Linked DNA regions of Homo sapiens. The protein of the gene in region 2 interacts with the protein of the main gene of each other region in a pairwise test. Each region holds a gene or a part of one and is shown on either strand. Other genes may lie near its edges.

Evidence for each region.
Region 1: the proteins of POU2AF1 (region 2) and PITX2 interact in binary tests that used the Homo sapiens proteins (3 or more experiments, as listed by UniProt).
Region 3: the proteins of POU2AF1 (region 2) and TFG interact in binary tests that used the Homo sapiens proteins (3 or more experiments, as listed by UniProt).
Region 4: the proteins of POU2AF1 (region 2) and DGCR6L interact in binary tests that used the Homo sapiens proteins (3 or more experiments, as listed by UniProt).

What each region holds. Positions count from the first base shown.
Region 1 is NC_000004.12:110,614,929-110,620,356, forward strand, and holds the end of PITX2 (pituitary homeobox 2), read right to left. Parts: intron 3,761-5,428; coding exon 3,197-3,760; 3' UTR 2,495-3,196; downstream 1-2,494. UniProt on the Homo sapiens protein: May play a role in myoblast differentiation. When unphosphorylated, associates with an ELAVL1-containing complex, which stabilizes cyclin mRNA and ensuring cell proliferation.
Region 2 is NC_000011.10:111,375,599-111,385,023, forward strand, and holds the start of POU2AF1 (POU domain class 2-associating factor 1), read right to left. Parts: upstream 3,678-9,425; 5' UTR 3,580-3,677; coding exon 3,564-3,579; intron 2,255-3,563; exon of another isoform or gene 2,252-2,254; coding exon of another isoform or gene 2,176-2,251; intron 1-2,175. UniProt on the Homo sapiens protein: Transcriptional coactivator that specifically associates with either POU2F1/OCT1 or POU2F2/OCT2. It boosts the POU2F1/OCT1 mediated promoter activity and to a lesser extent, that of POU2F2/OCT2. It recognizes the POU domains of POU2F1/OCT1 and POU2F2/OCT2.
Region 3 is NC_000003.12:100,738,966-100,748,238, forward strand, and holds part of TFG (protein TFG), read left to right. Parts: intron 1-5,867; coding exon 5,868-5,966; intron 5,967-9,183; coding exon 9,184-9,273. UniProt on the Homo sapiens protein: Plays a role in the normal dynamic function of the endoplasmic reticulum (ER) and its associated microtubules. Required for secretory cargo traffic from the endoplasmic reticulum to the Golgi apparatus.
Region 4 is NC_000022.11:20,312,667-20,318,262, reverse strand, and holds the end of DGCR6L (protein DGCR6L), read left to right. Parts: intron 1-2,043; coding exon 2,044-2,144; intron 2,145-2,786; coding exon 2,787-2,927; intron 2,928-3,438; coding exon 3,439-3,588; 3' UTR 3,589-4,025; downstream 4,026-5,596. UniProt on the Homo sapiens protein: May play a role in neural crest cell migration into the third and fourth pharyngeal pouches.

The DNA.
Region 1 (5,428 bases), on a different chromosome or scaffold from region 2:
TTTTTTTTTTAATAAAACAAAACCCGAGGATAGGCCAAAGATACCGAGAGAAGAAAAGGTGCCTGCTAGTAACAGGTGAGGGATGGAAGGGGGTGGCGGGGAGAAAGCCCCCAGACGGCGGATCGTCTGCGCGGGGTTCCTGCCCCAGGCCTGGCGAACCTCTGAGCGCTCAAGGAGCACGGCGGCAGTGCGCTGAGGCCAGTGAGGCCTGGGCGCCTCCGGGCCCAACCTCGAGCTCGCCATTTTTGAACCCAAGCGGGGAAGGTTGGTGCTCATGCTATAGATTATGTTAAAGGTTCCTTTAAGCACTTTAATACACAACTAGCTCAGAAATCATTAAGAGACCTAGAGAAGGAGAAAAAATACCCTCACACTCACCGGTAATAAGTGTTGACATGCAGCAAAAATCGGTTGAGTGGAACCGAGGTGGTGGTTGCAGCGACGGCTAGAGGGGGACCCGTGCAGGGGCGGGAGGGGCGAGGGGACTGACTGCACCGGCTCTGGGAGCTAGGTTTCTCTCGCTGGATGGGAAAAGGAGGTGCGGAAAGGGGCAGGCGGCCTGCGGGCTAGCGGGGATGAGAGTTGTGGGGAGAACGGAGGAGAGAGTAAAATTATTCCTTTTGGAAGTCCAAGGGAAGGGAGCTGAGGTGAGAGAAATGGCCTCTCTTAGGTCCCAAGTCTCCGCCCCCAGCCTGCACCACTCAAGTCGGGGAAGTGACAACTCTTCCTAAACCTCGACTTCCATTTTTTGTTTCCTGCAGATTGATTGATGTCCTCGCGTTGTTCTAGTTCAGCAACCAAACTAGGCCGAGGTACACCTCTTTTACCCAGAGCTCCCAAATCACTCACCAACCTGCAGGAGACCTAAATCCTCCGGGCAGGTCTCGTTAGCGCTTCCAGCCCCCATCCCCAAATCCCCTCTTCTAGCTCCTTCCTTCCCCTCCGCCCTTTGGCCCTCCCCGCCCCCTACCAGGCTGAGAGGCGGAGAGGCCGGGACCGCTGGGCCCTGCGGCTCCAGAAGCCAAAGTCCGCCCGTGGGGACCGTTTTCCTCTCCACTGCTCTCAAGTGAACAACATGGTGGGAGGTGACCCTCGTCCAAAGGGCTTTTATCTGCCCCCCACTGCTGCGTGATCCCTCCGCAAGTCGGAGGCAGAGCTTTAAAAAGAAAGAAAGTGTGCGTTGAGCACTGATCTTAAATCGGGGACATTATCTGCGATCTCTTTAAGTGGCAGCAGCAGTTTCTTGCAGAACAAAGACTCAGTGTTCGAGCTCCAAAAGCTTCTAGGTAAAGTTTCATTCAGATGAAAGCAACTAAGGCGAAAAAACAATGATATTGTCGGCTCCAGAAAATCGGCGGTTACTTTTTGCTCTAAGTTCCCCAGCGTGGTGTTTGTTCTCGCCCACTTTGGTTGTGCGGGGGGTTGACAAGCATAACAAAAGATCTCAGCACATCCCTCCCCCCACCTCCACAACGACCCTCCTAGCGCCATGAGGATGAATTCTCTGGGACTAAGTGGTATTTGTTTCTATTTGTTATGAAATCAAATTTCACATTTTTTTAAAGCTGAAAATCGCGGATAAAGAAGGATCGGGTGCTTAAAGTTCATTTAAACACTCACACCGAACTCATTCCCTGTTTAGATGTCAGAGGATGGCAGGGAGGGCCAGGGCTGTAATTCATCTTGATTTGCTTCATTGTCCTGCAGTTTGCAAACTATAATCCTGTATAATTTCAGGAACAAGCAGGTTTAGAATTAATGGGTCAATATTATTTAAAACAAAACACCGGGAGCATGACCTTTGCCTCAACTACATATTGCTCGACAAGACTCAGGAAACTCCACTCTAACCTCTCAACCCCTGAGTTCTTTGAGAAACTGAAGGGCTGTAGTTATTAGAAATCATCTTTGTTTCTTTTAATGTCTCCAAAGGATTTGGAAATAGTAATGCAATATAACATGAAGGATCTCTCTACTTAAGCCTGAAGATAAACGTGGAAGCCTAAATATTTTGAACTGGAGATGTTTCCCTGTAAATTTATTATAGATGTATTCCTCCTGAGAGAAATGCATATAAACTATACATGTATACATGCACAAATATTTCTCCAGAACAATTTGCTAGAGGTGTAGGTTTCCCCGTAAAGGAGTAAACTTGAGAGTCATTTTAAGCTGATGGACTTGCTAAATTTCTTTCTTCTTTTTTCTTTTTCATATTATTTGCTAGCCATAATGGAATCCTCTAGGTTTAAGCCAAAGAAAAATTGGAGAGACAAAATTAGATTTTGTAGCCCTTTTCCCCCCCGGGAATGCCTTTTTTTTTCTTTTTAGTTTCTGATGAATGGCTATCATTTATTTCTACCAAATTTAAATAAGGACTGCTGCCTTGTATGTTTAACTAGGCAGGCAGAGGGAACTGGTTTGTTTAGGAAGCAGTGACTGAGATGTCCTGGCCAAGTTAGTGACAGAGGAGGGGAGAAAGAATCCAGACCAATTTGTATGCAGTATATTTTACTCCCATGAAATAAAACACATTTGTTTCATATTTGCTGAAAAGTAAAACAATAATATTGTACGAAATGTTATACACAGGGTAGGTTGTACATAGCAGTTTCAGAAACATCATTGCATCCACCAGAGAAACTATTCTAAAACTGATATTCACACATTTTTTATAATAATAATAATATGTTAGAAACATACAGTGTGGCATTTAGTATATACACTCCCTTGCTCGCAAGCGAAAAATCCTAATCGCTTCTGTATAACATGCTTTATTTTAAAGCCTAACCTTTAAAAACACTGTTGTGATATTACTAACAACTGCTTTTATAAAATTAATTTGACATTTCGATATATATACATCCTTTCAGTCATTTAAATGTTAACAATGCTAAACTTAAAAAATAACAAGCTTATAGTAATGTTAAAATGTCATATCCAGTCAAACATTTGTTTGTGTATGTGTCCTTGCAACTGTTAGAAATACTTGTAGTGAAAGATGTCAGACACTGAGGACATCCCTTTGAAATCAAAGGAGCTCTCTCTTTGATTCAGTGGTTTCCTTTTCTCTATATAGCTTCTCTTTCTCTCCCTTTCTTTAGTGCCCACGACCTTCTAGCATAATTCCCAGTCTTTCAAGGGCGGAGTTGCCCCATCCGGCAAGGTCCTAGGATCCCGGCGCTGTGGGTGCGGCTCACACGGGCCGGTCCACTGCATACTGGCAAGCACTCAGGTTGGAGGCCGGGTTCTGCACGCTGGCGTAGCCGAAGCTGGAGTGCTGCTTTGCTTTCAGTCTCAGGCTGGCCAGGCTCGAGTTACACGTGTCCCTATAAACATACGGAGGAGTCGGCGGCGCGTAAGGACAGGCAGGCGTCGGCACCGCGGAATTCAGCGACGGGCTACTCAGGTTGTTCAAGTTATTCAGGCTGTTGAGACTGGAGCCCGGGACGCCTGTCACTGCTGAGGGCACCATGCTGGACGACATGCTCATGGACGAGATAGAGTTGGGTGGGGAAAACATGCTCTGTGATGACAGGGGGTTGACGTTCATAGAGTTGAAGAAGGGGAAGCTCTTGGTGGATAGGGAGGCGGATGTAAGGCCCTTGGCGGCCCAGTTGTTGTAGGAATAGCCTGGGTACATGTCGTCGTAGGGCTGCATGAGCCCATTGAACTGCGGCCCGAAGCCATTCTTGCATAGCTCGGCCTGCTGGTTGCGCTCCCTCTTTCTCCATTTGGCCCGACGATTCTTGAACCAAACCTGGGGGCGGTTGGGGCAAGGGAGCAAACAGATGCCACAGTGCAGATTACTAAAACTTCCATCGGAGGCCAACCCCCGCCTTCCCCCGACACACACGCTAGCGCACTCACACACCCTGGCCTCGCTTCACTGCACCGCCCTGCACACCAAGATACCAGGGCCAGCTTTCAGTTACTGGCCCGGGTCTCCACCAAGCGCAGGAGACCTGGTCTGCTCTGGCCTGCGAGCTGGGACTCGGAGCTACGCCACAAACCTCAGCCGAACGCATGGAGACCTGCGGACGGTTTGATCACTCAGCCAGGCGTTTCTCCAGGTCCAAAAACACTTAATGTAAAACAAACGCGGGGCAGCAGGCTTTTCCAACCCTTCCCGGGGCACCTTGCAAACTTGCTTCCATTCCAAAGCCACAGACCCACGGATGAGGAGAAGGGGCTGGAAGGGCACTAGAGGATCGCTCTTTCTCCCACGCAATTCCTCCCTTCCTTCCCTGACCTCCACTGTCGTCCCCCACCCCCTGGTACGTGCTCCCTTAACAGGGACTAGGCCGCCAACACTCTTTCTCGCCTAGCAAAACAACCAAATAAAGAGCAAAAGACCACCTCTTCGTCAGCTCGTTAACTCCAGGAGCTTGGCATATTAAACTCCGGGAACCCGGAAAGGGTAGTTTTGGAGATTCCCCCTTCTTTCGCTCTGCCTCTTCTTTACCCTAAGCCCACCACAGGCCTGTCCGCGCGCCAGGCCCAGCCGGGTCGTTTGGCTTTGCAGGCGGCCACCCAGGCCGGCCGGCTTCCACCCGTGTCCGGTGGCCCAGCCGCAACCCCGATCCCAATCCACATCGGGCCTCCCTGTCGCCCCAGACGGCGGCTTTTGTGTATTGGAGAGAGGCCTGGCCTGAGATATCCGAGCTGACACCAGTGATGTTTCACATTACACATCTCCGCCGGGCCCAGCCGTGTAATCCGCTTTTTCTCTTTTTCCTTTCATTCTTGATTTCCTTTTTATCCCCCTTCCTCTTTGCACCCGACTGCTATAAAAAGCACGCCTCACTCCCACTTGGCTCGACAAGCAGCCGCCCTGGAAGGAGAGGCAGCTGCAAGGAGAGCCCAGCGCCGCGGCTACAAAGCACTAGGGTGGAGCTGCGGAATAGCGGGCGGGGTGGGAGGGCGTTTTCGAAGGATCCCAGAAAACCCATAGACTCTGTCTTTAATTACTTGCCATTTCTACCCTAGGCCATCTAAACTTTGCTCAGGCGAGAAGAGTACGTGAGAGGCCCGTTCCCTTGATGTGCAAGAGAGCTAATGAAAGACTGACCTTGCTCAAAACCACGCCGCCCAGGACCCAGCTCTGGCTCTGGACAGTTAAACTAAAACCATTTTCAACTTCTTCCCGGCCTTTTATCCACCAGCATAGCCTCATGCCTTGCACAAATGCCACCCAGAGAGTGTCTTCATTCCCTCTGATTTGGGAGAGCATTTTGGTCTTTATTCTTTTTATCGTTGTTTTCTTCTTTTTGTTTGCTCTGCTCTAACCGGGGGCTTTATTTTTTCTACCCAGAGCACTTAATTTTTTTTTTTTAACAGCAAAGCCTCTGGATGCCGCTTGATTTGCTTGATTCTGTTTTCTGCTTCCAGAATCCTAACAAATTTGGAATCTTCCACCGACCAGCAT
Region 2 (9,425 bases):
CCATGTTAGCCAGGATGGTCTCGATCTCCTGACCTCGTGATCTGCCCGCCTTGGCCTCCCAAAGTGCTGGGATTACAGGCGCCCGCCACCGCACCCGGCCTGATACTGAGTATCTTAAGGAAATGAATGCCTGAAGAACCAAGCAAATCATCTCAGACCAGAGGTTGGCAATGTTTTTCTATTATAAGCCAGAGAGAAAATATTTTAGGCTTTGTATGCTGCACAGTCTCTGTCACAACTACTCAACTCTGCAAAAGCAGCCCTAGACAATATTCAAATGATAGACAGAGCTGTGTTCCAATAAAACTTTATTTACAAATGGAGTGGCAGGCCTGATTTGGCACAGAGGCCATAGTTTGCAGACCACTATTTTAGACCCTTGGAAAATTTTGCAATATCCTATCACCCAAGAATATTTAGACTGTGGCTTTTTAACTATTCTAATCAAAGTGTGGAAAAGAATATATGAATTTAACATAACACTGATCATTCAAGATGGGCCCACAGGTGGTTTCCAGGACGGAAGGTACTAACTCATCCCTACCACTACTTATCAGGAAACTTGCTATCATTTTACCTACATTCTCTACTTTAATTCTCACAAAAACCTTGGGAGGCAGACATTAGAATCCCCACTTCCCAGATAAGGAAATGAATGGAAATTTCCTTCTCACAAAGAAAGAACTAAGTTGCACAGGCAACTTTCAGACCTGTCTCCCTCCAAGGTTCCTGCTATTTCCACTACACTGTTACTAGCTGGGGAGGGATGGTAATTCTTCACATGTGCACCTGACCAGCAGGTCCAAGTCCAGAACCCAGGGAGAGAATCTACAGATGGAGTGACTTCTTCATCCAATTGGCCCATCAAGCAAATCTCAAATCCATTGGTTGGGGCTTGAAGATTTCTACTTCTCTGTGCCAGCAGTTCTGGGCTTTGTCACTTTATGCTCTAATCTTAACCAAAAGCCAGGGTTCACATTTAGTCCACAAACTAGGGTCATGGGCTAGGTAGGGAGGAGGTAACATTCACAAAGTGAATGTTTTCTTAACCCTTTCCAGAACCCCATAGTACAGTCATTTCAGCTCATGCCTCGAGGGTGTTTTCTGAAAAAAGAAAGTGCCCTTTCAGCACTCTTGGTGTCTGATTTCAAACCCTGCCCTTCCATCGGGTGACTCTAAGTGGGCTGACATGCTGCCCTGTTTTTACTGATTTTCCCACACGGTTTAGTCACCCAGGTGCCCTCTATACCACATACTTGGGTTCAGGCTAAGGGGGTGGGTCCAGAGCCCAGGGTCTCTCCTACTTTTCCTTTAAGGCTTAAAGGACAATTCAAGATAATTTTGATTTGTGTTCATCTGAACATGTGGAAACATTCACCCCAGTTATTCCATTGATGAGCTTACAATGTGGTCTCCCTTACAATGGAGTTTTGATCTATCTGACTGGTCTCCAGGGTGTGAGCAGGAAGCATGCCCTCCAGCATCCCCTTTAAAAAATTTGGGGGACAGGTGCAGTGACTCACACCTGTTTGGGAGGTCAAAGCGGGTGGATCACTTGAGTCCAGGAGTTCGAGACCAGGCTGAACAACATAGTAAAACACCATCTCTACTAAAAATACAAAAAAAAAAAAAACAGCTGGGTGTGGTGGCGGGCACCTGTAGTCCCAGCTACTAGGGAGGGTGAGGCGAGAGAATCACTTGAACCCAGGAGGCAGAGGTTGCAGTGAGCCGAGATCGCGCCACTGCACTCCAGCCTGGGCAACAGAGCAACACTCTGTCTCAAAAAACAAACAAACAAACAAAAAAAGTCTGTTCATCTCTTAGAAGGAATTAGAAATGAAAAAATGTACTACAGAACCAAGAGGGGAGAATATGGCAGATGGTGAATGCAGGGAAGCAACTCATATCTCAGAGGCTGATGCAGACAGAGCAATGAACATGACTTCGGTGGCACCTCACTTACTAAGGATAGATCCTCAGTGTGGATATGATTTTTACCCCCACTTAACATACAAAAAACCTAAGGATTGAGAAAAAGGAAAGTGGCTTGCTCATAGAAGGTAGGAGCTGAGGCAAAACTCCTTCCAGGGGCTCACACAAAAATCAAATGATTCAGCCCTGAGTGAAAGGGCACACAGATGCTTAGGGGCCCCCAGTAAAAAGATGAATGCCCACCTGCTCTCATCCACACAGCACTCACAACAGGGTCAGCTGCCATTGTCCCAGAAAGGATAGGCTGCCGCTGCTCCATCGCCTGTTGGGAAGAGTGGCGTGCCAACAATTCTTGAATATTCCTAGTTATCTTGGAAGGAGTCCATAACTCTCAAACCCAAATTAAAGCTCATTTCTCTTTATTTTTTTAAAAAATTGACCTTTTGATATCAAACAATGGTGGGTCTTCACAACCTGAGAAATTTTGAAATCACTCTTCTGTGTTACTGGTTAATCAGCTTAATTCCAGAGAAATTTACATAAGACATAAAGCAAACAATAAATTGGTGATGACAGTGTCACATTTTAATCAATGAAGTTATATTTTCCGAACTTTAGTGGATCCAATCAAGTATCTTTCCATAAAATAAAAACATTCCCTAATATATCTTCTTCTGTAAATCTAGATTCTCTTATATTAAGCTTGCTTGAGGCACAGCATACTAAAATTAATTAAAACGAATTTTAAGGAACCAAGAATCTTTAAGAGAAAGACAGAGCAATTTTTGGTCATTCTTCTTGCTTGAGGAAGTATAGAACTAGCCCCAATAAGGTTCAACTCTCAGAAGCTGATGAGTTGACGCTGTTTACCTCGTGAAAAGAATGTTGTAAATAATCTGTATTATTTCAGTTATTAGTAAGGTAAGTCGCTGTTTGGTCCACATAAAGGAAAATAAAGTTCACAATTGTTTCATCCAACTCCGGGGATAAAAATCAAGGCCAAAGATAAACCCACTGCATCCTTTGCAGTGGGATGGACAAGCCTTGTCACAGAAGGGGAAAAAGAATGACGAAAGGCAAGACAGTGGAGCAAGTGAGGACACGCTTCACCGAGCCAGATCTCCACTCCTCCCAGGGTATCCACAGGGACAAGTCACACCTGGCAGAAAGCTAAGTCACTCAGCTAGAAACAGGCCCAGGGAATTCAACAGAAGGCTGAAGAGCCACTGCTTATGGAAATAAAGCCCCTCCTGTAAAGAACTGCATGGCTTTTCCCTCCCAACCCCAAACCCATCCCACATCTGGCTTTTGTTGTGTGAATCATAAACTGCCCTTTCTTCACCACAGTGATTCATGCACAGAAGCGGAGGTACCCTGAGCCGTCCCACCTTGGAACACTAGTTCGTTCCCCTCCAGCCTGGAAAATCAGCATCACCTCTGACAGGCTGGTTTCTCCACCAGGCTCCATCCCGCCCACCTCCCCCCTCCCTGCTCCGGGGCTTGGAACCCAGACCCCCTCCCCCCGTGGCCCCATCACCTCCACCACCAGCTCCCCAATTCCAGACCAAGCTGTGATCGCCCTGCCCCGCTGGCACTCGCTTGGGTCTGACAGCCACAGCCAAACCACTTACGTTTTTGCCAGAGCATGGCCTGTGACAGGATGTTGCCTTTTCTCTTTGAAGCCGACAGTTTGGCTTCTTTAATGTGAGACCGGGGTGTGTTTTCCTCCAGTGGAGCCACCGCTTGAGCTGAGGCTGTTTCCTGGGCTTTTTAAAGGCCTGGGTTCCCGCTGCGTGGGCCGCGTCATCACATCCTCCCACCTCAGGCACCGGTGCAACGTTTCTGCAGCCAGGCCGCCTGTCACCCCACTGTGCGCGCCCCAGCGGCCCCGGCCCAGAGCGCTCCACACTCGGAGCTAGCCAGCTGGGACAGAGCAACAGCGCAGCGCGGGCAGCCACAGCCTGCACCGGCCCCGCGGGGACCTGCTGTGTGTGGGTGTGAAGGTGGTGTGGGGCAAGCTGTGGGAACCCCGTGTCAAGCCCTCCCCAGGCCAGTGATGAGCCCAAAAGCTCCTCTGGAAAACGTTGATCTTTGCACGGCGCCCATGCAGGCTTCCAGGCCACCAGGGCATGGGCAGGACTCAGCCCGCCATGGGCGCCTGCTCAGCGGGAAATGCGATTCCCAGGGGTCACTGGTTCTCAACTGGGAGGAAACACCTGTCATCTCTTCAAGCCTCAGTAAACAACCTCCTCATTCTTTCAATATTGCTTTTCTGTTTATTCCATTTTGAAACACAGTAGCCCCTCCCCTCGCCCCCAGCCACCCCCAAAATGGCAAGGCTTAATCATGCTGAAATATGGGGGCGCTGGCTCTGATGTCGGCTATGCCCACGGAAAAAGAGGCCAACCCTCAAGGAAGGAAGGAGAACATGCCCGTGCTCTTTGACTGGATCTGGGCTTGTAGGCACAAGATGAACAGAGCCTCTTTGCGAGTGCCCACCCACTGATAACAGGAAGCTTCTTTAAGTAAGTCATGGGCTCACCATCTGGAAGTGTAGATGGTGTTGGCTACCGGTTCCTTCACAGTTTGGAAGCCTTCTGCCACTGCATATCTGAGGTCCACATGCTCAGGCTCCAGGGACTCAGTCAGTTTGGGGTCAAGACCCCTTGGCACACCCCCTAGAGCAGGTGTGGGGCCTTGCTGCTCTGCCATCCATACTGCCTCAGAGCCATCTTGCACCACCTAGACCTGATCATGCTATCCCCTAGCCTACAAAGCATTCACCTTCTCCCTTCAGCCACAGAGCTGGAGGCCTAGAAGGCCTCCCACAATCGAGCCGTTGCCTTCCTTTCCAGCCTCACCACCAACTGCCCTCCTACCACTGGTCCCAGTGCCCTCTAAGCACCACCAAACACCCATGCAATTCCCTGCCTTTGACCTTGCCGTCCTCTCTTGCCGGAAGGACAAACCCCCAGCCCAGAGAATACTTGTTCGTCTTCTCAGATCTTAGAGCACTTTGTTCATTATGTGATGGTGAATTGTCACATGACTCTGACAGTTTCTCAAGGAGGTTTCATCTTTGCCTCTCCAGTGCCCCACACAAGACCTGGAGCATAGTGACCCCCAATAAAAATTCATCTGATAAAGTTATGAATTACTGTCTCTAATCGGTTGCTGATTTGAGGGCAGGTCTTGAGGAGAAATGCTGTCAACATTTTATAAATGATTCACTTAAAAGCCAGAGAAGGCTGTCTCCTGGCTGCCTATAAGCCCTCCCCGCAAAGCCTCTGAAGTTCAGGACAGTGGAGGCCCCCATGCTGTGGTGGCTGGCAGCCCACACCCTGGCCTGGCAGGGGGCAGCATCTCAAGGCCTTGGGCTGCGCCAAGGAGTTTCCATGAGAAACAGAGGCACATCCCTCAGGCCTGCCTCAGTCACAGGAGACGTGGGTTCCCATGAAGGCTCTGACACTCACTCACTGTGTCCCCTTCAACAAGTCACATAACTCTTCTAGCCTCAGTTTCCTCATCTATAAAATGAAGAACCAGTTCTGTGAGTGTCTCACAGGTTCGTAGGAGGATATGTGGCCTCGCTGGTCCTCTCTCCCACGGGTCTGTCTTTTGTCTCTTTTGGTCATGTCTTATTCTCTCCAAGTCCGTGAAATTCAGAACTTTTTCTTATTCATCTCAGTTTCTCCCCACAGGCCTAGCATGATGATTTCCACAAAGTAATAATATAACCACTTACTGTGCAAGAGGCTCCATGTTAAGCCTTAAATACATTACCTAATCTAGTCACCACAACAACGCTGCAAGGAAACGTCTACCTGTATTGTTCAGAGAAACAAACAAATGCTTAGGGAATTTCATCTGTCCAATGTCACCAAGCTATCAGGTTATAGGCTGGTGCCAGACCCAAGTTCATCTGACTAGAGCCAGAGCTCTAAATCATTAAAATAAAAGATATTTATTAAGTTGAAAGCAGTAAATGCCAAGTGTCAGCCATGTTTGTTAGTAGTAATATAGGATCATTATTATTAAAACCTGAAGCAGATCAACAGAAGCTATATCCCCCGGAATAAATTTCTGTCCTCTGGAAAGAGGGAAGGAAAAGGTGAGACCCAGAGCTACTCTGACAAATCAGATCTTGTACAGTGGCAGAAAAACAAAATGTCAGTGGGCAAGCCCACCATCATGGCCAGCGATAAACCCATCACCTCTTATGGCCTCACAGCTCATGAGGCAGATTCCAGCTCATTTCTTCCAGCAAATACCCTGCATATCAGTGACCACATACAGGCAGATGCTTTGGAATCAAGACTTGATCGAAACAGCAAATATTTTCCAGGAAAACATTTTCTGTGACTTAGAATCAAAAGTCAAACTGCATGGCATAGTTCAAAAGAGGCGACTATGTTTATGCAATGTCTCAAGAAGTGGAAGAAAAGAAGAAAAAATCTGTGAACATGGTCCAGATGACTCCAAATACAGGTGTGCTCACATTTTTAAAGAATCTGATATACAAACATCAAAACTTCTAAAATAATTTATTAAAGCGCACTGATTCATATTGTGAAATAAATTTTAGCTTTGCAAAAAGATTCACCATCGACTTCATTTCTTCCATCATTTAATAAATATTTACAGAGTGCTTATTACATGTCATTACCTCTGCCAAGTCTTAATCTTTTCTTTTCATTTAGCCTTTAATCATCTTCATTCTCATCATTTTTGATTTATGAAAAGCCCCTATCTTATTTTGCTCAGTAATTTATTTATTCATTCATCTACTTTCCCCCTCATTTTCCATGTCTATTCTTTTTCCTGTCCCCTCATACCCCCATCACCCACCCACCATTCCAATCAGGGCAACTCTTTTCAGTGGTTGATGCTGAAGCTTTTATTTGTAGACATTTGTGCCTGTTCTTATAAGATCTGTATTGTTTGGCATGTATAGATTTTTAATTTATGTAGGTGATGTTATATTACACATTTCACGCTGTTTCTTATTTTTTAATTCAGCACAGTGTTGTAAGATCTATCCACATTGATGTAGACATTCTGTGCACCACTTTTAACACCTGCAAAGTATTCTATGGTGTGTGAGCGCTGCATTTCACTTAAGCAGATTGTCTCCAACTTCCTCTTCCACAAACAAAGCATTGATGAACATTCTTATATGCATCTTTTTTCAGAGGCATGTGAAAATTTCATTGAGGTTATATGCCCAGAGGTGGAATTACTGGGCCAAAGAATAGGTGTATATTTAATCTGACTGAATACTAATCTGTCCAAGACTTCCACCAGCAGTTCATTTTTCCACCAGCTTCTCATATTTCCACTTTACCACCAAACCTGACATTATCCAAGGTCTAAATGTTGCCAGTGTGGTACATGTAGTGATAGCAACAGTGTAGTGTGTGTGTGTGTGTGTGTGTGTGTGTTTTAGTGTAATAGTGTAGTGATAGTGTAGTGGTTTATTTTACATTATAATACTAATAAATGGAAGCATGTCTTCATATGCATGTTAACCCTATGGAGTTTCTCTTCAAAATACCTCTTCAATCACCTCTTGGCCTTTTGGCTAAGATCAAGTGTAGTATTTGTTCTTGCCAGTTTAAAATGTCTGTTCATTCCTTTGCCAATTTCTGTACCAGGATTGCCCTTTTTCTTGTTGATCAGCAGAAATTCTTTGCACATCTGTGTTCTAGATGTACAATTCTAGATATTTTCAGTTTTACTCAACACAAATTTCTTCACTCTTGTCATCTGCTAACTTTATTCATAGTGTGCTTTTTTTGAATAGAAATACATACTTTAGGTACATGGACCTATTTTATTTTACTGGTCTCGTTGTTCTTGTACCTTAGTTTTTATTGTTATTTATTATAGTACAGCTTAAATTTTTCAGATAAGTCTATCAAGTTCCTCAAAAAATTCCAGCCAGCATGGTGGCTCATGCCTGTAATTCTAGCACTTTGGGAGGCCGAGGCAGATGGATCACCTGAGGTCAGGAGTTTGAGACCAGCCTGGCCAACATGGCGAAACCCTGTCTCCACTAAAAATACAAAAATCAGCTGGGCATGATGGTGGGCACCTGTAATCCCAGCTACATAGAAGGCTGAGGTGGGAGAATAGCTTGAACTCAGGAGATGGAGGTTGCAGTGAGCCGAGATCGCACCACTGCACTCCAGCCTGGGTGACAGAGAGAGACTCCCCAGCACCCCCCCCAAAAAAAACACTGAAATTTTTATTGGTTTTCATTGAATTTGTAGATTACTTCAAGCAAGAGTAATATCATTATAAAATTAATTTGGTCCAGCTGAGCATGGGACAGCTCTCCATCTCTTCAGATCATATTCCATGTTTTTTATTATTACAGTTTTTAAATTTTCTCCGCAGAAGTACAGTATATTCTTAAATAAGCTAATTCTCAATTATGTTATAGTTTCTGTTGATATTGTGAATGGCATCTTGTTTTTTATATAATTTTCTAGTTGGTTAGTGATGCTATAGAAAAATTCTAATATTTGAGAGTTTATCTTATTTCTAGAAACCTTGCTGAACTGTTTTATTTATTCTAATAGTTTGTTGGTTATCATAGTCTTTCTAGGTAGAAGACAATCTCTTCTGAAAGTAACGGCAGTTTTATTTTTTCCCTTCCGATTCTTCCATCTCTTGTTTTTTTCCTTTCCTATGGTGTTGGCCAGTACTATGACAAGTAATAATGCTAATAGTGGTTATTCTTGCCCTGTCCTTGTCTTACAGAAATGACAAATTCCTAAAATTAAAAAAAAAAGATGAAAAATCTTTGAAAGGCCTCATGGACAACAATAGAGATAAGGTAAAACAAACACTTGGATACGTTATAATGAAACTTTAAAACAACTAATACAAACAGGACATTCTAAAAGCTTACTAAGAAAAAGAATATATTTATAGCTAAGGAACAAGAATCAAAATGACAGTATACTTTTCCACAGCAAAACTAGATGCAAGCGGATAATGAAGAAATATTTTTAAAGTATTTAAGAAAATGAACACTGAACCTATAATTTTAAATCTAGCCAAATTGTCATTCAAATATTGTAGCTAATGAAGATGTCTTCAGACCTACAAGACTCCCATTAAAATTGCTCTTAGAGAAAGCATTCAAATGAAAAGAGTGACTCAGGAGGATGTTGCAAGAACTATGAGAGCAAAAGGTAATCAAATACTGGGTAAAGTTTATTATAGGAATTTTCTTAAAGCTGGGAAAAGGAGAAAATTCATCCATAACAACACAAAACAAAATATCTTTAAAATAACATGATTACACAAGTCCAGAGAACACCATTTATATTATATTTAATTTTCCAAAATGTGGCCCTTAAGGAGATCAAAGAGAAATCAAAATGCACTAATGCTTTCGTTTTCTAAGGAGAAAATATAGCTATCAATAAATTTAAGAAATCAATAGGGACAAATAAACATAAAAGTGGATCTGAAGGACAAAT
Region 3 (9,273 bases), on a different chromosome or scaffold from region 2:
CTTCAAACAACAAACAACATATCACATTTCAAACAAGCCACATTTCAGGTGCTCAATAGCCACATGTAGCTAGTGATTATTTTAAGAGCACAGCTTTAGATAAATATAGTCGTTATTTATAGATTCCCAGCATGAATTATAGGCTACTTTTACTTTTTGTTGTATAATGAGTCTTTGACATTGTCAGTTATTTAGATCAACTACTGGTTATAATTTGAGCAGAATTACCAACATAAAATGTATTACTTATAATTTGTTAACATAGCAATCTCTTACAATGTGTTAATAGTCCATACTAAAATTAAGAATTCTGAGTTGTTACTTAACTCCCATAAAAGGGACTTTGGAACTGTGAATTTTATTCCAAATAAATGTAGTCTTAATATGTTTTTCAGTTAAAAGGATCAACAAGATATTGAGCATCATTAAAAAAAAACCAAAAGGGATAATGTTACTCTTTTTCATATAAAGCCAGTGCCTGTTACAGGAAGACTATGTGATGTTGCCAGAAATGTAACTGGTAAGGAGAAGAACGCTAAAAATCATCAGAGATCGGGAGATATTGCTGTTTGACAGCCTAAAAAAATGAAAAAGCATATAATTAAAATCTTTAAAATCATATGCCAATATAATGAAAAGCTGAGTAGCCTTTATTATGTAAATATTGAAACATACATAGAATAATCAACTCTTCATGTAGTCATGTGGCTTCAACACTTACCAATATTTTGGCATTCTTTTTTCATCATTTTTTCCCCACTGCACCCCTTTTAATTTGCTGGAGTAGTTTAAATCAAATTATGAACAGCTTATTATACTCAGGTATTTCAGTATATATGTCCAACTGATAATCTTCTTTTTAATATAACCACCATGCTGTTACTTAACAGTGATTCTTTTTATTTTTAATTGTGACAGGGTGTCACTCTGTTGCCCAGGTTGGAGTGTACTGGCTTGATTACAGCTCACCTGCAACCTCAACAGTGATTCTTAATGTCAACGTGTGCTAGTCTGTGTTTGAATTTCCCTAATTGTTTCAAGATTCGTTTGTTAAATTGACTTGTTCAAATGAGGGGCCTAACAAGGTTCACACTTTGCATTGTTAATGTGTCTTGAGTCGTTTTTTCTAATAGCCATTAGAAAAAACTTACATGTTTCTAAAATCCCTTACATGTTTCTAAAATCAAAACTATGTGTATTATTTATTACTGTGTAACTATTATCCCAAAACATAGATACTTAGACAACAAAAGTTAATTATCTCATACAGTTTTAGACAGATATCCCGGAATGGTTTAGCTGGGTGATTTTGGCTCAGCATCTCTCATGAGGTTGCAGTTAAAAATGGCTGCTGGGGTTATAGTCATCTGAAGCTTAACCAGAGCTGGAGGATTCAGTTCTTTACCATTTGGACTTCTCCATGGGGCTGCTTGGGTGACCTCATGACATGACAGCTTCACCAGAATGAGTAATCAGAAGAGAGTGAGGTAGAAGATAACCTTTTATAGCCTGTCCTCAGAAATGTCACTGTCATTTCTGCAATATTTTCTTGGTATACAGGTCAGCCCTATTCAGTATGTGAGGGACTAACAGGGAGCAGATACTCATGTGCTTGTTGCTTATTTGGTCATTTTTGTATTGTGGAGTTAAATCTTTCTAATTTCTAAGAATATAAACGATACCAACCCATTGTCATAAATGCTATACATGTGCAGAAGCCGTTGAGGGTCATGATAGAGGTTGGCTACTCTGTGTAATAAATAATTCCCAGAAGTCTTACCATTACTCTTTGCTTCATCCTGTTCTCTTTTCCCCTTAATTTTTTTTATTACTTTTTACTTTATTCTGTCATTGATTCTTTTTGAAAATATACATAAAACATAGCTTATATATAGTCATGCACTGTATAACATTTCAGTCAACAGTGGACTGCATATATGATGGTGGTCTCATAAGATTATAATGGAGGTGAAAAATTTCTATTGCCTAGTGATGTGTAGCCATCATAATGTAGCACAAGGCATTACTTACGTGTTTGTGGTGATTCTGGTGTAAACAGACTTACTGCCAGTCATATAAAAGTGTAGCTCACATAATTATGGGTAGTACCTAATACTTGATAATGATGATAGGTGACTCTCTTACTCATTTGTGAATTTACTATACTATATTTTTAAATCATTAGAGTGTACTCCTACTTATTTAAAAAAAAACAAAGCTGTAGAACCAGGCTCAGATAGGTCCTTCAGAAGGTATTCCGGAAGAAGGCATTGTTATCATAGGAGATGAGAGCTCCATGGATGTTCTTGACCCTGAAGACCTTCCAGTGGGACAGGATATGGAGGTGGAAAATAGTGATATCAATGATCCTGATGCTGTATAGGCCTAGGCTAATGTGTATGTTTGTGTCATAATTTTTTTCTAAATGTTTAAAAAAGTAAAAATTTAAAATTAAAAGAATAGAAAAATGCTTATAGAATAAGGATATAAAGAATAAATATTTTTGTATAGTAGCACAATGTACTTTAAGCTAAAGTATTAAAAAAGTTAAAAAATCAAGTTTATAAAGTAAAAACATTACAGTAAGCTAAGGTTAATTTATTGAAGAAATGGAATTTTAAAAAATAAATGTAGTATAGCCTAAGTGTATAGCGTTTGTAAACCTTTAGTAGTGCACAGTAATGTCCTTGGCCTTCACATTCACTCAACACAAGTACCTCACTTGGAGCAGCTTTTAATCCTACAAGCTCCAGTCATGGTAAGTGCCCTAGGCAGGCATACCATTTTTTATCTTTTTTGCCATATTTTCACTGTACCTTTTTTATGTTTTGATATGTTTAGATACACAAATAATTACCATGTGTTAGAATTGCCTAAGTATTCAGTACAGGAACATGCTCTACAGGTTTGTAGACTGCTATGTACCATATAGCCTAGCTATGTAGTAGGCTATATACATCTAGGTTTGTGTAAGTATACTATATGATTATACAGTGACACAATTTTCAGAACCTACTCTTGTCATTAAGCAATGCATGACCATATTTTTTATTACTCAAAACATTGCTTACTATAAACAATGTCTGCATTTTGCTCTCTTCATATATCCTATAGATCTCTCAAGTATGTGAAGAAGTTCATCCTTTTTCTTTTTTTAAACAATTAAACAGACTTCTTAATTAATTTTCAGAATACTGTGACAGTCCCATTTGGACTTGAATGAGGTGGGTTTAAAGTAAGTACCGTAAATCCTCACTTAACATTGTTGATAGGTTCTTGGAAATTGTAACTTTAAGTGAGATGACGTATGAGGAAATCAGTTCTACCATAGGCTAATTGATATGAGTAAGTTGAGTTCCTACAGCATATCTCTGATCACAAAAATACCCCCAGACTTCTAGATAAAGACTAAAAACAAATGTGAGTTATAGATACATTTAAGAAAGATTAATAAAAACAAATAAGATAATGATTTATGCAGTTATTCCAATTCAGGGTTGTGGGTGGCTGAAATCTATCCCATCAGCTCAGTAGCAAAGTGGGGACCAACCCTGACAGGTTGCTATTCCATTGCAGGGTGCATTGCAACCACACACACACCCATAGTCGTTCAGACTGAGATCATTTAGACATGCTAAGTAACCTAACATACACATCTTTGGGATGTGGGAGGAAATTGAAGTGCCCAGAGAAAACCCACACAGACTTGGGGAGAATGTGCAGACTCTACACAGAACAGTAACCCCAACTGGGAATAATTTTTTTTTCCTTCTCAGTGTTTTAACGAAACAATGTCGAACAAAAGATGTTATTTGAGGATCTGCTGTGTAAAAGGAATCTTGTGTAGAGATATAATAAACCTCTGAAATTTTTAACTCTAGGGATGTTTTTCAAAATCAATTTATAGCAGTTTATGAAAACATGCAAAAAAAAAAAGCTTTATGAAGAGTTGTACCCTATAAATTTTTATTGAGGGGAATAACTGTGGTTTTGACCAGGAGTTCCTTACTCATTGATGACCACAGTCTACTACTACGTGGAACCTTAATCTCAGCCTTTTTTGATGATGCCCAAGTTAATATTTATATTGTTTTGTTCATGGGATAATATATGCAAAATGACTTTATAAACTAAAGCTTTGGAGTTATGCCTGAGTTCCAGTGATGGTTCTTAGCTCTTCATGGTTCTGTTCTTAGCTATTGACTGCAGGTAAGTTGCTTAATTTTTCTGTATCTGAGATAAGGAATACTAATATGGTTGAATTTTTTTAAATGTGTTTATTGCCTGTTTGCTTATTTTTTTATTGTGGAGTTAAGCCTTCTAATTTTCAAGAATTAAGAGTTCATTGTTATGTGCTATACGTATTTATTCCCCTTGATTATATTTCTGTACCTACTTACCTTTTTATTTTAGATTCTGGTCACTTCTATTCCGAAAGTTAGTTATGAAGTACAATCCAGGATTAAGGTGGCATCTAAATTTGGTTAATTTCTGTGCTACCTTTTATGCTATTAGTCTAAATCATTAAGAAAGCATTTAAGAAACTTTTGTAAGCGTTTCTTTTTTTTTCTTGTCATATTTGGGAATAGGATAAATAGCTTAAAATAGTTGAGCTGATTTTTATTTGTATTCTTTTTTTATTATAAAGAAACATTTGCTAGGAAATAAGCTGGATATAAACATAGTTGTATCTCCTTTAGTGCTACCCAGCACTAAAAACTTAGACACGTATAGGGCTGAGCAGCTGGTATAATAGAGTGGGCTCCGTCTCATTTTCTAAGCCTGTGAGTCCTAGCTGCCTACTGCAGCTCGATTTGAGTGGGAGTTGATATAATGTCTTTTTTTTTTTCTCACTTCAGCAGTAAGTATCTGGTTTGCTCATAGTCTTTTGATTAATAGGTAGTTTGAATATTTTTCAAAGAATCAGCCAACATGTGATTATTTTAAAGATTTAAATACCAGATAGATATTAAAATGCAAGGTTATTGCTACTAGATATTACATCTAGCTAAATCAACCATTGTGAAATAATTGAGAAGTAGAGATAATAAAGACATAAACCAATAAATCTTTGCTTGAAAATCACAGGTATGGGAACAGATTGTGAGGACAGAAAAATAAAAAGTAAAAAGAAAAATCATAGGTAATAAGTGTCTAAAGGGTTTCTTCATAGGAACAGTGGTTGTTGACCCCAAATAGGACAAATAGGACTCCCATGTTCAAGAACACATCACCGTTGTTAAAAAGGTCTGCCATTATTAAATAGTGCAATGAAGAACCATTTAGACTTTATTAGAGTCCACGTTATTGGCAAAAGATGTTGGATATTCATAGAAAATCAAACTTGACAAATTCCAAAAGTGTCTTTCAGCTCTGGAACAAAAGATGTCATATAGTTCCTTGCTACCAAAGAGTTTGTTCATATGGTAATAGAGGCCCATACCTTTAGAGGGCAAATACAGTGCTTTAGGAAGGACTTAGATGATATAAATGGTATTTGTCCCTTTTCTCATTTTTATTTACTGATTTTCAACTCACTTGGCTTTTAATGAACATTAGCGTTACTTATCTGTTGGCAGCTGGGTTGGAAAACATTTGTTTTTCTAGACTTTATGAAATGGTAGCCACTGGTGTTGCACTTAATGTTTATTGCCAGTTAGTTCTCTGCAGTTAATCCACAGCAGAGGAATCACACTTCTAAAATGGTTCATTCTCTTCTTCATAGACATTTAAAGTTGAACAAATACTTTCTTGTATATTGTTACTCTGTTTGGATGGAGAGGGAATGTATATGTATCTTAAAAATATTTCTCTTTGCCACATTAAACATGCCTTTTTTCCTTGTGTGTGTGTGTGTGTGTTTTCAGGTCAGATGTACCAACAGTACCAGCAACAGGCCGGCTATGGTGCACAGCAGCCGCAGGCTCCACCTCAGCAGCCTCAACAGTATGGTATTCAGTATTCAGGTGAGCAGGTGTTGAAAGGGAGTTGGCTCATGGTTTTTTGTTTCTATACTCATTAAACTTTAAGTTCTTAATTCCTTGATTTGTAGTACATTGATATAATAGGTATTAAGTTTTTATTAGGGGAAACAACATTTGTTTTATTTATTTTTAAATATTTTACATTAATATTGTAAATCAACATTTCAGTTTTCTGGTGGGGAGATAAAACTTACAGTAGATGATTCTGCAGTAACTTGTAGTATAAAAAGTTTTTAATACAAAGCTGTCTTACTAACATTATCAGTTTATCTCTTAGGCGACTTAGTGCAAGTTTTCCCCCTTCCCTCCACCTCTCCATTTATATGTAACACGTAATTCCAGTGTACTCTTAGTACCTGTAGAAATATGAACAGTTTACTATACATGGAAAGGTGATGTTATTTAAATAAGAGCTCAATTAAGCTACTTAGATTTTAAAATCTCTTGCAAGTATGTAGGAATACCAGAAATAGGCCATAAAAATAAAATCGTATAAAATGTAATTCAGGCAACTAAGAACATTGTTTAGTTGTTTTAAATAAGCATCCTGAGTATTTTGTTTCTATTTTACCATCTGTCCACTGAAGATTATATGTATTTAAGTATGATAAATATTATTAATGTAACTTTGGCTATAATTCCAGTATTTTTTACAGTTATGTCAGAGAGTTTGTGTCCAACTCTTGTTTTACAGCCAAAGATTGAAGTATCAGAATTTCAACTGTAATTAGAAATAATTTATGCAGGTTGAATCTAGTCTAAATTCTATTTTATAGAGTTTTGTGGTATCAGCTAGAGCAGGAGTCAGTAAAGTATAGCCCACAGGCCAAATCTGGACTATTGCCTGTTTTTTTGAATAAAGTTTTATTGGAACACACTTCTACTTTTATATTCTCTACTGCTACTTGGGCACTAGAATGGCAGAGTTGAGTAGTTGCAACAGAAGACCATGTGGCCCACAAAGCCTAAACTATTTACTATCTGGCTCTTTACAGAAAAGTTTGCTGACTCCTGACCTAGACCATAACATTCTGTCATTAATTAAAATTTGAAATATTTTGACACAATTTTATTTAGATTGTATTTGCTGTAGAGTGACTTAACTTGTAGCTACTTGTTTTTAATTGTATAAAATACATAGAACTTAAGTTTGGATTATATCAGGAGGAAGGTTATTTTTAGGATGCAGTTCTTTTAAAAAAATCAGTGTTACAAACTATGTTATTTATAGAAAGAATAGCAGAGCTGAAGAGATTTAGTCATCATTTAATCTCGGGATTTCGGTCCTCACTATGCTTTAGAATCACCTGGGGGAGGCTATGTGTGGGGCCCCATTCCCAGAGATTTTGAATTTCATTTGATTGGGTGTGGGACTCAGGCGTTTGCATTTTATAAATGAGGCAACTAGTTTTGAAAGAGATTGTGACTTGTCAAAGCACATACAGCCATTCAGTGGAGGGAGCTGGATCAGTTCAGTATTTCCCTGTATCATTCTGCATTCTACAACCTAGACTGGAGTTGGCAGACTTACTCCATAAAAGGCTAGATGTCCTATGTATTAAAAAAAAAACTCACATAATTTCCATATTTCCATTTTTTTGCTATTTCTGATGTCCTTCACCTAAAGTTATTTATTATTTTGGAGGGACGGAAGGGAGACTATATATATACACACACACACATGATAGAAGCATTGCCACATTATGTTCAAGAGACTGGTGGGCTGCTAATGAAATCTTCAGCCTGTAGGGTTATTCCCTCCCCTAAGCAATAATTAAGGATCAGATTACTTCCAGGCCCAGTTAAAAAAAAACAATTCAGATTTCAGGTGCCAGGATGAAAAGGCACTTTTCTTTTTTCTCGCAGTGTTAAAATGAATAGGCATTTTCAGTATAAAGCTGAATCCATCTATTTCTTCAAAACCTTATAGTGAAAATTTAAGTTTTATGTAGAGGATAGGAGAACTTGTATGACATTCAGAATTTTTTATGAGTTGGTTTCAGGTCAGTATTTAGATGCTACCATGAGTTAATGCGTTAAAGATACTTGATTTACTTATTAAGAACTAAGCTTGCTCTTAATAAATTTAGTCAGGGTCTTCACTCTGAGTAAAATTTAGTCTTTTCAAATTATTATCTTTGTATTTCTGATCCTACTAGTCTATTAACTTGAATTTGATTGAGAGATATGGAAATAGTCAACTAAATACTCTGCTTGGAGACTAAGAGGTGGTGGTGGTAACATTGGACCATCTTTGACACTGTTGGTTTGCCAGTTTCCCTCTGACCTTTTCCAGTTTTGTTCATGGACTATGTCATAAAGGTTTCTTTCATGAGTAAATTTTGAACCCAGGTTCAAGGTGAGTTCAGAATATACTCAAATTCATTCAATCCTTTTTTTTTTTAATGCAGGGTTGTACATATTTTAATAATTTTCTTATGTATCTGGTATTTAATGCTGACAGGATTCCAGTCAATGGAGAGGTTTCATTGCAAGTAGCTGCAGGTGTGTTTCATGGTAGAGATAAAAGTTTTCAGTGAAGCAGACTTTCGTTGTAAAAAAAATTACATCCTAGTAAATAATGAATATAGATGTTGCTTTTTATGGGGCAATATGGTATGCTTTTTATGTGTTATGCTGTACTGCTAAGTAAAAATTTTGAGTTGTAAAGGCAAAAAACATCAGATACCAAATCTAAAAGGAATGATTTTAAAGATTGTGAAAATGGTACTTTTTATTTATTTGCAAAATTTAAAGCACCTGATTAGTACAATAAGATGTATTTATAGTATTATTTCATATAAAAATGTTCATTCTCCGCAATGTGTTTTTATTTGATACTGTTAAGTAGGTCTCCCCTGAAAACCTGGTTAATGACTATTTAGCTTTCCCATTTTTGGTCTTCCTAGAAAGTATAATTCTTTCATTTATCATTTGAGCATCTGTTCTAGGAATTATGCTATGTCAGGAATTTGCTCTCAGGGATTATGTCTTAGAGAGTTTAAAAAATTGTAGAGAATGCCTCTTTGATAACTACTTGGTCTTGAAATATTATGTGATGGAATCTACCACTCTGCTTGTTACATACATATTTATTAAATTTCTCACCATTTTTGGTCCACCTAACAGTAAGACTAATTCTTTGGAAAAGTAGTTTTACTAAAAGATAAGATACATGTTATTTATTTTGCCTTTTCAGCAAGCTATAGTCAGCAGACTGGACCTCAACAACCTCAGCAGTTCCAGGGATATGGCCAGCAACCAACTTCCCAGGCACCAGCTCCTGCCT
Region 4 (5,596 bases), on a different chromosome or scaffold from region 2:
CAGTGTCCATCTGCTCCAGGATTGGTGTGTTTTTATCAAGAATGGATGTTGGATTTTGGCAGTTCCCTTTTCGGCAGCTCTTGAGATGATCACGTGGTGAATCATTTTCTATTACTACAGTGAATTACAGTCACTTGAATTCCATCCTACTGGGTCGTGCTGTAGTATCCTTTTTATGTATGCTGGATTTGATTTGCTAAAATCTTAAGAATTTTTTGGTCTATGTTCATGATAAACTGTGGTCTATAGTTTTCATGTAATATCTGGTTTGGGTATCAGGGTTTTTGCCAGCCTTATAGGATGAGTTTCGAAGTGTTCTCTCCTCTTCAGTTTTCCAGAAGAGTTTGTGTAGAATTGGCATTACTTCTTCCCCTAAATGTCTGGGCGATTGTCTTTTTAAAATTTTTTATTGAGCTGTAAGATGTATGTAGTTTACTAATCCCAAGCGCATGGCTCATTATTCCTTAATGCCCAGACTGTGCCATGTGTGGCCAGTTGGGGGCGCTCCAGGCACCTTTAGATGCCGCCCCATCATTCTGTGAGCACTTTCTTGCTTTCTGGTTCAGGTATGTGTTCAGGCTCATCTTTTCTTGTTTTCTCCGTGTCTCAGTCCTGGAATCGGCCATTTTTCCACAGAGCTATAGTTCCTTATAGCAGGATGGGGAGTTTTAGTAACTGCCTGGGCCCAATGCTGTTTGTGCTTCAGAAGGTTTGGGCCAGGCCCTGGTTCCACCAGCAGCAGGCATGCCTGCATTGACTTTCTGCTTCTCCTGCTGATTTGGCAGGGGCGACTGGCTGCTCCTGCCTCCTTTGTGTTCCCTGGTCATGTCTAAGGCCAGGCCCCTTCTGCCCAGGCAGCCAGCGTGGCTCTCTTCTTGCCTTTTGGTTGTCTATCTAGTGGAATCTGGTAGTGGACCTGGCACTTGTAGCAATGTTTGATCAGTAGAGTGAAGGAGATGACATTTCCCTGCTTCCCTGTGTTATGGAGCTGTCTTGAGGGGGGCTTTTGGTAAATACCATCGTCGAGGTGTGTACAGAATGTGAAGAGACAGGAGATCGGGGAAGGCTGTAGGCACAGCGGGAGCCAGGCTACCTGCAGGGGAGCCTCAGGGGCCCTGGAGTTCCCTGGGGACTGGCCACCAGAGAAGAGCTGCAACATCAGGGCTCTTCCCAGGAACAGAGTGTTGGGTTTCACCTTTTCTTTTGGCCAGGGACCCCTCCCTCCTGGGGAGCTGTAGCCATTTGGCACTTACTGGTCACTGGCGCCAGCTGTGGGGTGCTGCATGTTCTGTTTCATGGTGGTTTATGTCCCATGATCGCTTCCTCTGTACATTCCCTTCAGACCAGACAGTTTGCACACATCTGTGTTTGTGCACAGTTTAGCAAGGACCGTGGAGCTTTACTTGATGGCTGAGGGTGAGCCCCTCAGAGCCACACAGGCTTATGGCACCCCAAGCTCATCCCAAACTTGGGCCTCCCAGGTCTGCCCACCCTTCTCCCTCTGGCGCTGTGCGGGGGCTGGGAGCTGCAAATGAGGGAGGGGCTGTCTACCCTGAAGGGCAGCACTGAGGGTGGAGGGCCCGACCACACCCCTGGTAGGCAGAGGCCCCACGCTCAGGGTCAGCGACCCCGCTCCTCCTGCTCCTTTCCCATGCCTTTGCCTGAGGTGGTCTCTGACACTTGAGTAGATGTCTCATGGCCTGTGGCCATGGGGGCCCTGAAGCCCTCAGACTGCAGCCTCCCTCCCGCCTGCCTCCTCCAGCTGCCCTGGGTCTGGGGCTGCAGCTTTGGCCCCACCTGGCCAGTCTTCCCCACCCCACTCTTTCAGTGCCCCGCACCTTCTGGAGTCCCCTGGAGACTTGCCACCAGATAAGGGCCCGGCCCTGGGTGACAGTGGGGTGGGAGGATGGAGGAGGCTGGCATCCTCCCCACTGCAGACACCCCTTTGGCCTGGCTGCTCTGCTGGGCTGGCAAGGCAGGTGCCCATGGGTGAGGGCTGCTGCCGAGTCCCACCGCCTGCTGACGGGCTCTCATCCCTCCCAGTGCTCAGGCAGGCGCTGCGGCAGAAGCACCAGGAAGCCCAGCAGGCCTGCCGGCCCCACAACCTGCCTGTGGTTCAGGCGGCTCAGCAGCGAGAACTAGAGGTACTGGGGGCGCAGGCAGGGTGGCCGGCCCAGCTCTCCTGTGGGCACCACCTGGCTCTGCTGACTGGGCTGAGCTGAAGGGGTGTGGGGGCTCAGGCATGGGTGGCTGTCCTGGGCCTGAGTGGGACACTGGAGGCCTAGTGAGTCCCACCAGGTGGCTCCTCTTTGCGGATACCAAGTGTGCTGGGGCTGGGTGGAGGTTGAGAACCCACCAGTGCTCCCCTGGATAGCAGCTCCTCGTGGGTTTGGGCCTCCACAGAGCAGGTGGCCTCAGGGGGGTACAAAGGCAATGGTAGGGTGTTGGGGCCAGGAAGGGGCCCATCCTTCTCCCAGGGAGCACAGGGACAACCAGAGACTGGCATGTAACCAACAAGCCGTGGGGCAGGGTGTGCCTGTGGAGATGTGTGTGTGGTCCTAAGGCAGTCCCAAGCCAGGGCATTCGTGGAAGCCCCTTGGGGCCCCCTTCAGGGGTTCACATGGCCGAGGAGAGGCCTGGGTGTGGTGAGGATGCACCGGTGGTGTCAGAGCTGCTGCCACTGGGGACGGCAGCAGGAGCATGTGTTTGAGCTGCCCTCACCTCCCCGCCCCCTGATGGCAGAGCTGCCCTCACCTCTCCCCCTCCGCGCCCTGGCCCCATGGCAGGCCGTGGAACACCGGATCCGTGAGGAGCAGCGGGCGATGGACCAGAAGATCATCCTGGAGCTGGACCGGAAGGTGGCTGACCAGCAGAGCACACTGGAGAAGGCGGGGGTGGCTGGCTTCTACGTGACCACCAACCCACAGGTCAGTGCCTGGGCCTGCTCTGCCCTAGCCCGAGTGCCCCGGGGCCCCATTCCATCTGGGGTTTTACTGCTGGTCCCTGGGGAGCCAGGCTCAGGGTATGGGGGTGAAGTGGAAGGATTGAGGCTCTGGAAAGGATTTCTGTGCCATTCCCAGCACGGAGGCCAGGCCCATTCCCTACAGGAGGGTGAGCCAGCCAGCCATGGGCACTGCCCACCCTCTCCAGGCCTGCTGTGCCACACAGGGCCCTCTTCTGCTCCCCTCCCGCATGCCATTCCGAGTGGCCCTGCTGGGGGCAGAGGCTCAGATTCCGAGTGGCCCTGCTGGGGGCAGAGGCTCAGATTCCGAGTGGCCCTGTTGGGGGCAGAAGCTCAGATTCCACCCTGTCCTGGCAGGCCATGACCAGGCTTCACAGGATGGTCGCCCCCGTGGGCTCACTGCCTGGCACCCTTGGGCCGGGATGAAAGGGGCCTGGGGGTCACTCTGGCCTTCATGGGGCCCCTCTGTATCCCAGGAGCTGATGCTGCAGATGAACCTGCTGGAACTCATCCGAAAGCTGCAGCAGAGGGGCTGCCGGGCAGGGAATGCAGCCCTGGGACTGGGAGGTCCCTGGCAGTCGCCTGCTGCCCAGTGTGACCAGAAAGGCAGCCCTGTCCCACCATAGCCACAGGCAGCAGAAGTCTGGGCAGAGTTCATCTTCTTGACCTTTGGCCACTGCCTTCCCAGCTGCCCGCAGGGGGTTCCCCCTGCTGAGGAGAGACCAGGTGGACCCCAGCTGCCTGTCACCCTTCATCTGGGACTTGCTGTCAAACCCTAGGATAGTCTCATAAAGGGGAGGCTGGGCCAGCCTGCTGCTGTCTGCTTCAGGACCAGGCAGAGAGTGAGGCTGGGGGTTCTCACACCTTACTCCACCGGGCACATCCCAACCTGCACTGGGGCCCACCCGAGCGCTTGTTCTGGTCTCAGCCGCTCCCTTGGCAGCTGCAGCCCCCATGCAGAAGAGGCTCCCAGGCCCAAGCTCTGTGTGACCCAGAGAAATAAAGATGCCTCAGTGTGGCCCAAATGTGGCTTGTGTGATAGCTGCAGGTTCTGCCATAACCGGGGCCCTGGTAGGGCCCCCACCTCTGTTGCAGCAGAGGCCTCTACCTGGGGGCCCCTTCCTGGGCTGTGTGCCCAGCCCACCACCCCTCCCCCTGCCTGGAGACTGGGACCCTCCAGCCTTTCCTGCCCCAGCCCTGGTCCCAGGATGCTGTCACTGCCATCTGTACAGGGGCCCCCATCCAAGCCCCAGGGCATGAGGACCACATCCAGCCTGCTTTGTGGGGCTGGGGGCTGGAGAGCATGGGAGAAGGCCCGGAGTGCAAGTATGCGCCTGCCGCAGCCTGGTCAGTGTCCTGTGGGAACCACTAGGAGGAGCCTGATGCAGGTCACTGGGATAGAGGACTCAGGGTGGCAGGAATGGCCTGAGGAGGAGCCCTGCGGGGAGGCATGCCAGGGCCACCTGGGGAGCTTGGCTTCTGCATCTGCATGAGTCCCCTCCGTGCTGGCCTGGGCCCATGGGCCCTGCTGGGTCCTTGTGGAGTCAGGGTTGGGGGTGTCCAGCACCCTGGGTGGCCAGGTCTGCGCAGGGCCTGGCCTCCAGGAACAGATGATGCTGGAAGCCAGAGTTTGGGATGAGACTTCTCTGACCCTGTCTGAGCCACTCCCTCTTTGTTGCCCAGAGCTGACCCTGTGTGAGGGCAAAGGGCTCTCAGCTGCAGGAACAGTGGTTTATTGACCAGGCAGGCCTCCCCAGCCCGGCCACTGCTCCCCGAGGGGCTCGGGCTATGTGGGCTGGCCTTGGGAGAAGGTGGACAATCCTCTAGGTCCAAGGACATGGGGGTCACAGAGGTGGGGGCCTTGGGCCCACACATCCGAGGAAAGTTCCTAACAGTTACCAGCGGCTATCCCAGGCAGGTATCAGGGTCAGCCCACACCTGAGTGCCCCCACCATTGGCAGGGCTGGGAGGCACCTGACTCCACCTCCAGCAGCTCTGCAAGTGTGGGGTGAAAAAAGGTGAATCTGTGTGAGGATGGGGTTGGCTGCAGCTGTGGTGATGGCCTGGGCGGGGGCGGGGGGGTGCTAGGTGGGGCAATGGAAGAGGTTGCCAGTTCGGAGCCACCTCAAGAGCTCCAGCCACAGCAGCTGCCGCTCCCGACGGGCACCCTTCACGAGGCTGCTGTTCTCCAGGGCGTGGCAGGACACGTATGACAGCACCTACAGCCCTATACTTGTACACAGGGTAGCCAGCCTGGCCTGCATGGGGGCAGATAATGCCATGAGGCCCAGGCCCAGCACCACACTCCATCGCACCAGGGAGGGCCCCATTCACCCAGCGGGAAGCTGATCTGGTCACACATGCCTAGCAGCTGTCCAAAGTACAGTAGGATGCAAGCGCAGCTCCTCCATCCTGTGCAGGTAAAGCCAGGAGCTGAGGGCTAATTCCAGGACACTGTCCCCGGTGCAGGGGTACAGGGCCCCTGTCCCAGCTCTGACCCTGTCCTGCCACCCCAGGTCCCCCATCTACACTCTCCAGACTTTATCCCCTTTGAAGTGGGGTTGGGATATAGGCTCTGTCCGGCCCTCTCCCAGTGAGGCCTCTTCCCAGCAGGACTCTGCTGGGCTGCCCTAC